2 separate regions of the Homo sapiens genome follow, and region 2 is linked to region 1. Evidence: fine-mapped expression QTL. Tissue or cell type: whole blood. Region 1 holds a variant in brackets; the other region holds the start of a gene. All regions are shown on one strand. Distances are from middle to middle.

Evidence for each region. PIP is the estimated chance that this variant, and not a neighbour inherited with it, causes the effect.
Region 2: it holds the start of PRR22, and the variant in region 1 is fine-mapped to the expression of PRR22 in whole blood (INTERVAL, PIP above 0.99).

The regions. Positions count from the first base shown.
Region 1 is chr19:5,811,333-5,815,490 of GRCh38, forward strand. The region is part of intron 1 of NRTN (neurturin); the gene reads left to right. Among named protein-coding and RNA genes, the nearest start is that of NRTN, 8.3 kb to the left of the region's middle. The variant C/T (reference allele first, on the strand shown) is at 2,234.
Region 2 is chr19:5,782,975-5,787,132 of GRCh38, forward strand. PRR22 (proline rich 22) reads right to left here and starts at 1,772. Exons shown (of 3, transcript NM_001134316.2): 1 at 1,557-1,772; 2 at 1,403-1,465; 3 at 1-1,079. The coding sequence starts at 1,686. The coding sequence ends at 4. It overlaps DUS3L (dihydrouridine synthase 3 like), which reads right to left. Exons shown (of 13, transcript NM_020175.3): 8 at 4,087-4,158; 9 at 3,775-3,871; 10 at 3,493-3,568; 11 at 2,629-2,817; 12 at 2,409-2,537; 13 at 2,166-2,301. The coding sequence ends at 2,229.

The sequences.
Region 1 (4,158 bases):
AGTTTGCTGACCACCTGTGTTCAAATCCCAGCTCAGCCACTTAGGTTGTTTGAATCTGAGCAAGTTACTTCACTTCTCTGGACCTCAGTTTTCCACCTACCAAATGGGGATAAAATAGTCCATACCTTGATACAAGTTACTACATGTAAAGTGCTTAGAATGGCACTAATAGTGTTGTTCATGAGTGTTAGTTTCAGTTATTATTACTATTATTATTAGAGACGGAGTCTCGCCCTGTCGCCTAGGCTGGAGTGCACTGGCGCGATCTTGGCTCACTGCAACCTCCATGTCCTTGGTTCAAGTGATTCTCCTGCCTGATCCTCCTGAGTAGCTGGGACTGGTGGAGTGCACCACCACACCCGGCTAATTTGTTTTTTGTTTTTTTTTTTTGTATTTTCAGTAGAGATGGAGTTTCACCATGTTAGCCAGGCTGGTCTCGAACTCCTGGCCTAAAGTGATCCACCTGCCTTGGCCTCCCAAAGTGCTGGGATTACAGCTGTGAGCCACCGCACCCGGCCCAGTTATTATTATTATTATTTTATTTATTTATTTTTTTGAGACAGAGTTCGCTCTGTTGCCCAGGCTGGAGTACAGTGGCGCGATCTTGGCCCACTGCAAGCTCCGCCTCTTGGGTTCACGCCATTCTCCTGCCTCAGCCTCCCAAGTAGCTGGGACTACAGGCGCCCAATACCACGCCCAGCCAATTTTTTTTGTATTTTTAGTAGAGACAGGGTTTCACCATGTTATCCAAGATGGTCTCGATCTCCTGACCTCGTGATCCACCCGCCTCGGCCTCCTAAGTGCTGGGATTACAGGTGTGAGCCACCGTGCCGGGCCCAGTTATTATTATTATTATTATTATTTTACCACTATTATTATCATGAAGGAGCCACCATACTCCTCCCCAGAAACCACTATCCCTGACCATCCATCCCTCAGCTTCACTTTGGCAAAGACAGACCCAGAGTCCCTCAAGACAAGCTCATGTGCTGGGACTTGATGCCCAGGGTAGCAGGAAGCCAGCGATAGTTCTAGCAGTTGGGCAGCACTCAGCTTCTGTGCTGGGGGAAGAAGAGGAGAGGCTGGACCTCTTTCTCCGGCAGACCTGGAAGGGGCGGCTGGGGGTGTCTGTGTCTGCACCCCCTGACACATGAAGCCACCCCTAGGTTGGCCTCTGGCCCCCGCAGACGCAGTATCGGAACCAGCTGTGCTTGCCAGATGTTCCTGGTTTGCCCCCAGATGTGTGTCGCCAGTTCGAGGCTGTCCTGGCTGCCTCATCCCTCCCATGGGGTGGGCCCAGGCCCTGGGGCCCTCTGAGGGAGGGGGCACATTTTTGTGGGCTGTGGAATTTGTTTTGTGTTTTGCAGAATCACTGAGTCTTGCCTTGAGAGGCCCAGACCCCTGGCCAAGTCTTGCCCCTCATGGGGCCTCAGTTTCTCCACCAGTGGAACCTCAGGGAACTCCTAGGGGCGATCTAGGAACAGGAGACCAGGAGGCTGCCCTAGGAACAGGCCCAGCTGTGAGCCCTCGAGCTATCAGCACTTGGGGAAAACAGAGGCACAGGCGCGCGAACACATGTATGCCGCGGCGTTCACACACACAGGCACTTCCCCACTGGCATGTTCTGGCTTCACGGCCTGGCATCCTCTACCCATGGGCAGTGGCAAGAGCACAAGAGCCACTTGGTCAAGCTCTTCCAGGTCCTCTCTGGCTTTCCTACAGTGCTGGGTGGCACCCTTCGTGCCCTATTGAAGATGGGAGGCCAGGCATGGTGGCTCACACCTGTAATCACAGCACTTTGGGAGGCAAAGAAGGGAGGATCGCTTGAGGCCAGGAGTTCGAGACCAGCCTGGGTAACATGGCGAGACTTTGTCTCTATTAAAAAAAATTTTTTTTAATTTAAAAAAAAAAACAGATGGAGGCTGGGCACAGTGGTTCATGCCTATAATTCCAGCACTTTGGGAGGCAGAGGCGGGCGGATCACCTGAAGTGAGGAGTTTGAGACCAGCCTGGCCAACATGGTGAAACCCTGTCTCTACTAAAAAATATAAAAGTTTGGCCAGGCGCGGTGGCTCACGCCTGTAATCCCAGCACTTTGGGAGGCCGAAGCGAGCGGATCACTTGAGGTCAGGAGTTTTAGACCAGTCTGGCCAACATGGTGGAACCTCGTTTCTAATAAAAATACAAAAAAATTAACCAGGCATGGTGGCTTATGGCTGTAATCCTACCTACT[C/T]GGGAGGCTGAGGCAGGAAAATTGCTTGAACCTGGGAGGCGGAGGTTGCAGTGAGCTGTGATCATGCCACTGCACTCCAGCCTCCAGCTTGGGCAACAGAGCAAGACTCCGTCTGAAAAAAAAAAAAAGCCAGGCATGGTGGCGCACACCTGTAGTCCCAGTTACTCGGGAGGCTGAGACAGGAGAATCGCTTGAACTCGGGAGCCAGAGGTTGCAGTGAGCTGAGATCGCACTGCTGCACTCCAACCTGTGTGACAGAGTGAGACTCTGTCTCAAAAGACAAAATACAAAAATTAGCCAGGCATGGTGACAGGCATCTGTAGTCCCAGCTGCTTGGGAGGCTGAGGCAGGAGAATGGCTTGAACCTGAGAAGCAGAGGTTGCAATCAGCTGAGATAACACCATTGCGCTCCAGCCTGGGCAACAGAGCCAGACTCCGTCTCAAAAAATATATATATATATGGGGAAACTGAGTCACAGGAGGACCAGGAGTGAAACGGAGAGGAAGGAGAAGTGTATGCAGGGCAGCACCCCCACAGGCAAAAGTGTGCAGACTTGGGATCTGCAGCAAGCTCACCCCTCTGTAAACTGAATTCTCAAAGTCAGCCCTGTGCCCTGCAAAAACTCAGCCGAAGATGTCCCTCTAGAAACTCCCATCCAGCAAAGACAGTCATGGGCACAGACACCACGCTTACAGGGCTGGGCAAGAGGAAGGCACCCATGGCTGGGGGTGGCCAAGATGGGTAGCAGGGAAGGGTTTCTGGTGGAGGGGCTGTAGGAGCTAGGGCTTTCAGGGTAGAGTAGGAGTTTGCCAAATTAAGATAGGCCCCAATTCCAGGCCTCCCCAAGATTAGAAGAGATGCCTACATGGAGAGAGGGTCCCCCTCCCTTTCTTCATCTCTCAGGTGCTACTCTTTGAGATCGGGAGTTCTGTAGGACAGAGGCTTTTATCCCTGGGACTGGGTGTGCCCGGCAGGTGTCCCCTGGGGAGTTCGGTGGGAAGGGGAGTGGGGGTGCCAGGGCGTTGCCTGTGCATAAAGATAATGAGCAACATTTCCTGGCATCACCAAGGAAGGTGCCAGAAACACACACCCTTGCGCTGGCTGTCTGTTGCTTTGGTTGATTGGAAGGGCCTGCCTAGCTGTGTGACGTTGGGCTGCTCTTTGCCTCTCTCTGAGTCCATTTCCCTTCTTTCCCCTTCCTTCCCCAGCTGTGGGGATTGTGTGGCCTCCAGCTAAAAGTGGAGGTCTGTCCTAGGTCCTTCTTGCTGCACCTCACACTGCTACGCTCCCAGCCCCTCCAGGAAGGAAGGAGGCTTCCCTCCCTCCAGGCAATGCAGGTTCTCCAGGATTTCTACGTTTTCTCCAGGACTGGGAAGGGATCTCTAGCCAGGCCCTGCACAGGCAATGTAGACGGCACCTGGGATCCCTGCAGGGGTGGACACGGGCAGTGGTCAGGGCGGGGCCGTTCCCTCCTGAGTCCCCCGGCCCCATCTGCTTCCCCTCCTCTCACTCTCCTCCCACCGTGTCTGTGCGCCCTGGAATCTTTGCAGCTGTGGGCGTTGGTGGCGTGTTCACCTGTGCACCCCTGTGTGTGTGTGTGGCCAGGAGGAGGGTCTTGGGGACCTTGGCCAGAGCACAAATGACAATGGATGCTCTTGTGTGTGTCTCTGTGAGACCGGATTACCACGTGTGAGTGGGGAAAACCTGTGTGTGTAAGTGGGATCATGCTTGAGTGTGAGTGTGAAAACACCCTGGTTTTTCACTGTGGGGTTGTTCAAGTGTGTGTGTGTGTGTGCAAACACCAGCACGTGGATATAACGTTTCACCACAAGTGTGAAAGCACTCAAGTGTGTGAGTGTGATTTTTTTTTTTTTTTTTTTTTGGAGACGAAGTCTCGGTCTGTCACCCAGGCTGGAGTACAGTG
Region 2 (4,158 bases), 28 kb before region 1:
GCTTTAATGCGGGGTGGCTCCCAGGTCCTCCCTGGGCCCCGGGGGAGTGGCGCTGGCTGGGCCTGCCGGCTGCCTGGCCTTCCTTCCCGGCTTTCCCTTCTTGGCCGTCGAGGCCTTTCTCTTGCCAGACAGAATGGGGGCCGGGGTGTTGGTGGCAGGGGGCCCCGGGTGGGGCGGCTGCTCCTCGTCGAGCGCCTTGAAGTTGAAGAAGTAGTCAACGTTGGACACGGTGTCCAGGATCTCAGGCACGCTGTAGTCAAAGGACAGCAGCTCCTCGGGCAGGCACAGCGAGCGGATGTCATCGGCTGAGTTCCCACCACTGCTGTCAGGCAGGGCCGGCCCAGGGACCTCGCACAGGGTACCCTCAGGCTCAGAGGCGCCTGGCAGGCAGTCGAAGAGCTTCATGGCGTCCTCCAGCAGAACCTTGTCAGGCAGTGCCAAAGCTCTGGCCGTCTTGGGGGCCTTGGCCTTGCCTGCTCCCAGCAGGGCCCCCTCCTTGACCTCGGCCACCTTGAGCTCGCTGAGGCCCGGTGGGTACAGGGGCACCCCAGGTCGGGCCCCACTGCCCTGCAGCTCCTTGACGGGGAAGGCCAGGGGTTCGGGCCCAGGGAAGTGGCCGAGGTGACCCTGGAGGTGGCTGTAGGCGTCTGGGGGCAGTGTGGGCTCTGCAGGCAGCGTGATGAGTACAGGGGGCGGCTTGTTCTCCTTGGGGGGTGGGGGTGGCAGCGGGGCCGGGCCTTCCTCTAGGGGCGGTAGGGGCAGCTCCACGAAGGCGGCGGGCCCTGCGTCCCCCACAAAACCCAGAGCCTCTGGCCCGGGGCCCTCAGGCGGGAAGTAGGGCAAGAGAAACTGGGGCCCCCCGGGTGCCTGCTGGTAGTGGGGGTATGGAGGCAGCCCCGGGGCCTTGAGGTAGGGCTGAGGCTCCAGGAGGTAGCTGCCTGGGGCGGAGGGGACCCCCGCTGGCCCCCCGCTGCTTGCTGCCAGCTTATACAGGGCTGACTGGCCCAGGTCGGGGGTGGTCCACTCGATCCGATAGATGCGGGGGTCGAAGAAGCACCCGCATGGGGCCATCTGGAAACCTGTGGGCGGCAGGCGGGTGCCCTGAGAGCAGCTGCTGCCTGAGGGGCCCAGCCCAAGCCTGGGGGCCTGTTTGGGAGATGCCACAAGAACCTTGCCATTGGGGGGCCCCTTTGGGGGACGACATAGATATTGCTTTGGGGCCCTGGCTGGGTGATGGATGACACAGAGCTTGTCTTTGGGGCTCATCTGGGGGACCTGTGTGAAGCATGGGGAGCAGAGGCCATGCCTTCAGGCTCCCACTTAGGGACGGGGCAGGGGCAAGATGGGCCTGCACACTCAAACCCACTCCCAGCCTCGTCAAGGGCTCAGGGGAGGCCGGTACCTGCTGGTGGGGCTGGAAACACCTCTTTCTCTGGGTCTGGGGGATGATACAGGTTCAAGGAGCCTGTGGACAAAGGTGCCCAGGTGGGTAGGGCCCTTAGGCGGGTGGGCCCCTGAACCCTCTCCAGCAGGTGCTCCCACCCACCCGATCGTACCCATAGCGGGAGGAGGCTCGGCACAGGTGGGAGCAGGCTGGTTGCCCAGCACCTCAGCCCCCTCCAGACTCTGCGGGCTGAAACCTTCCTGGGGAGCTGCAGGGGCACAGAACGGTTTGGGGTGCTGCATGGGGCAGCGGGGGGCCCGGTCCAGACAGGCCAGGAGGGCGGCAGTGGGAGTGCAAGTGGCCCAACCGGAGAACAGGCTGAGAACCTGGTGGGGTTCTGTTTGCCTGGTTACTCGGGGCAGCGGGTTCCAGCCTGCAGCGCGCCCACTGGTTGGGGTTCTGGGTGTTGGGGGCAAGCAGGGGCAGACGTTGGCAGACATGGTCATCACCATGGGAGGGAGGATTCTGGGCCAGGCCTTTGCCTCTTCCAGCAACACCCCCCTAACAGCTTTGAGGCCGCCTCCTCCAGGCAGGCTGCCCTGATCCACACCCACACAGGCTGAGGCCCCCCGGGTCCTCAACCCGCTACCTTCTTGGGGGTCAAGGCCTCTCTGGGCACCAGCAGCACCCAGCTTGGGGCAGGGCCCATGGAGGCAGCTAAGAGGTTTGGGGAAGGTGGGGGCCGAGGAGGGGCTGCTTCAGGGTCACAGAAAGGCCTGGATTTTAAAAGAATAAAATTTATTGTACTCTCCTCGCCCCAGGGTGCCCCTGGGAAAGCCTGAGGCTACTTGTACGCGTTGGCCTTGTGCTTCGGCAAGAAGGCGAAGCTGGGGGGCACTGGCCCAAGGAGCATCTCGCTGTGGGAGAGCAGGTGGAAAGCGAGGTCAGGCCCAGGACCTGCAAAGTACCCTCCGTGACCCCGGGCCCCCGACTGCAGCTCCCCAACTCCAGCCCACCCAGGCACCTGATGCGGATCCAGTCGGCTGCCTTCTGGCTGGCCATCAGCGTCTCCAGGTAGTCGCGGCCCAGGTAGTAGGGCGGCCGCTCGTTGATCCTCTGTGGGAGCCGCTCCAGCAGCCCCACGGGCACGTACCTGCGGCGGGTGGGCGGGCAGGACAGGCTTGAGTCAGCTCTAACCAGCCGCGGCCCACGCGCCGCCCACCCCAGCCAGCCCCGGTGCCCACCGGCACAGGAAGGACAGCCACTCGAGCAGAAAGCGCCGGGTCTTCTCCACGCCCTGCGTGTCCGAGCCCCAGTGCTCCAGGCCGTAGTTGGTGAAGTCCCGCAGGATGTCCAGGCGCTCGGACGACGAGATGTCCCAGTGCCGCTGCTCCTTGATCTCCGTGAAGAGCCACGGCTTGAGCAGGGCGCCACTGTGGGACGGGTGACGATCAGTGGGCCCAGCCACCAGCCTGCCTGGGATCGTGTGGCCTCTGCTTCCATGGCCTGGCCTGAGCCGGAGCCCAGACCACAAAACCTACAAGCCTAGTAAGCCTCCCAGCTGCATGCACACAACCTTCAAAGCACAGGACTTTCTTTTGTTTTTTCTGAGACGGAGTCTGGCTCTGTCGCCCAGGCTGGGGTGCAGTGGTAAGATCTCGGCTCACTGTTCAACCTCCGTCTCCCAGGTTCAGGCAATTGTCCTGCCTCAGCCTCCCTAGTAGTTGGGATTACAGGCGTGTACCACTACACCTGGCTAATTTTTGTATTTTTAATAGAGATGTTTCACCATGTTGGTCAGGCTAGTCTTGAACCTCCGACCTCAAATGATCGGCGTGCCTTGGCCTCCCAAAGTGCTGGGATTACAGGCGTGAGCCACACACCTGGCCAAAGCCCAGGACTTTCAACCCACAATCATCAGATCCCACAGCAGCAGCAATTTCCAGTCCCCTCTGCCGCAACGCAGCTGCAACTCCTGACATCGCTCTCTGCTCCTCCCATCTTGGGACCAACAGCCCACCACAGAACAGGGGTGGGTGACGGCGTGTTGGGTTCAGGGCACTGCTGCTGTGCATGAAGCTGGATCTCTAACATCCCTGGGCACTTACCGGGCAATCATGATCCCGGTGACACCAGTCTGCATGGCGCGGTTGGCATCCTCAAATGACAAGATGTCCCCATTTCCTGAGGAGACAGAGGCTGGGGTCTCAGGGAGACATGGGCAGGTGGGACCCTGGAGTTCTGCTCACCAGCCCTTCAGGAGTTTTGGCTGACCCAGTGGCTCCCATCAGGGTGGTACGAGGGGGTCCCAAGTGGGAAGGCGAACAGCCCAGAGGTGTGAGTGACCAAGGGTGGTAGGGGAGAGGGAGGTGGCTTCCCGGAACACCCACCGAACAGGGGCATGGGGCTGGCGGCCTGCACGCACTCCTCGATGTACTGCCAGTCGGCTAGCTTGGTGTAGCGCTGCTCCCGAGAGCGGCCGTGGAGCTGGGGGAGAAGCCGCCACGCAGGGTAGGAGGCAGAGAGTGAGACGCAGAGAGGAAGAGACCAAGAGAGCCAGGCTGAGAGAGACAGAGAGAGACACAGGCGGAGACAGAGGGAGGTGTGGAGGTGAAGAGGGAGGGATGGGAGGAGAGGAGCCATTAGGAAGGGACGCGGGGTCGACCGCGAGGCCCCAATGCCCGAGGCGTCCCAAGACCCACCGTGACGAGTGCCACGCCCCAGTCCCGCAGCTCGGGCAGCAGGCGGTGCGCCAGGTTCACACGCTCCTGGAC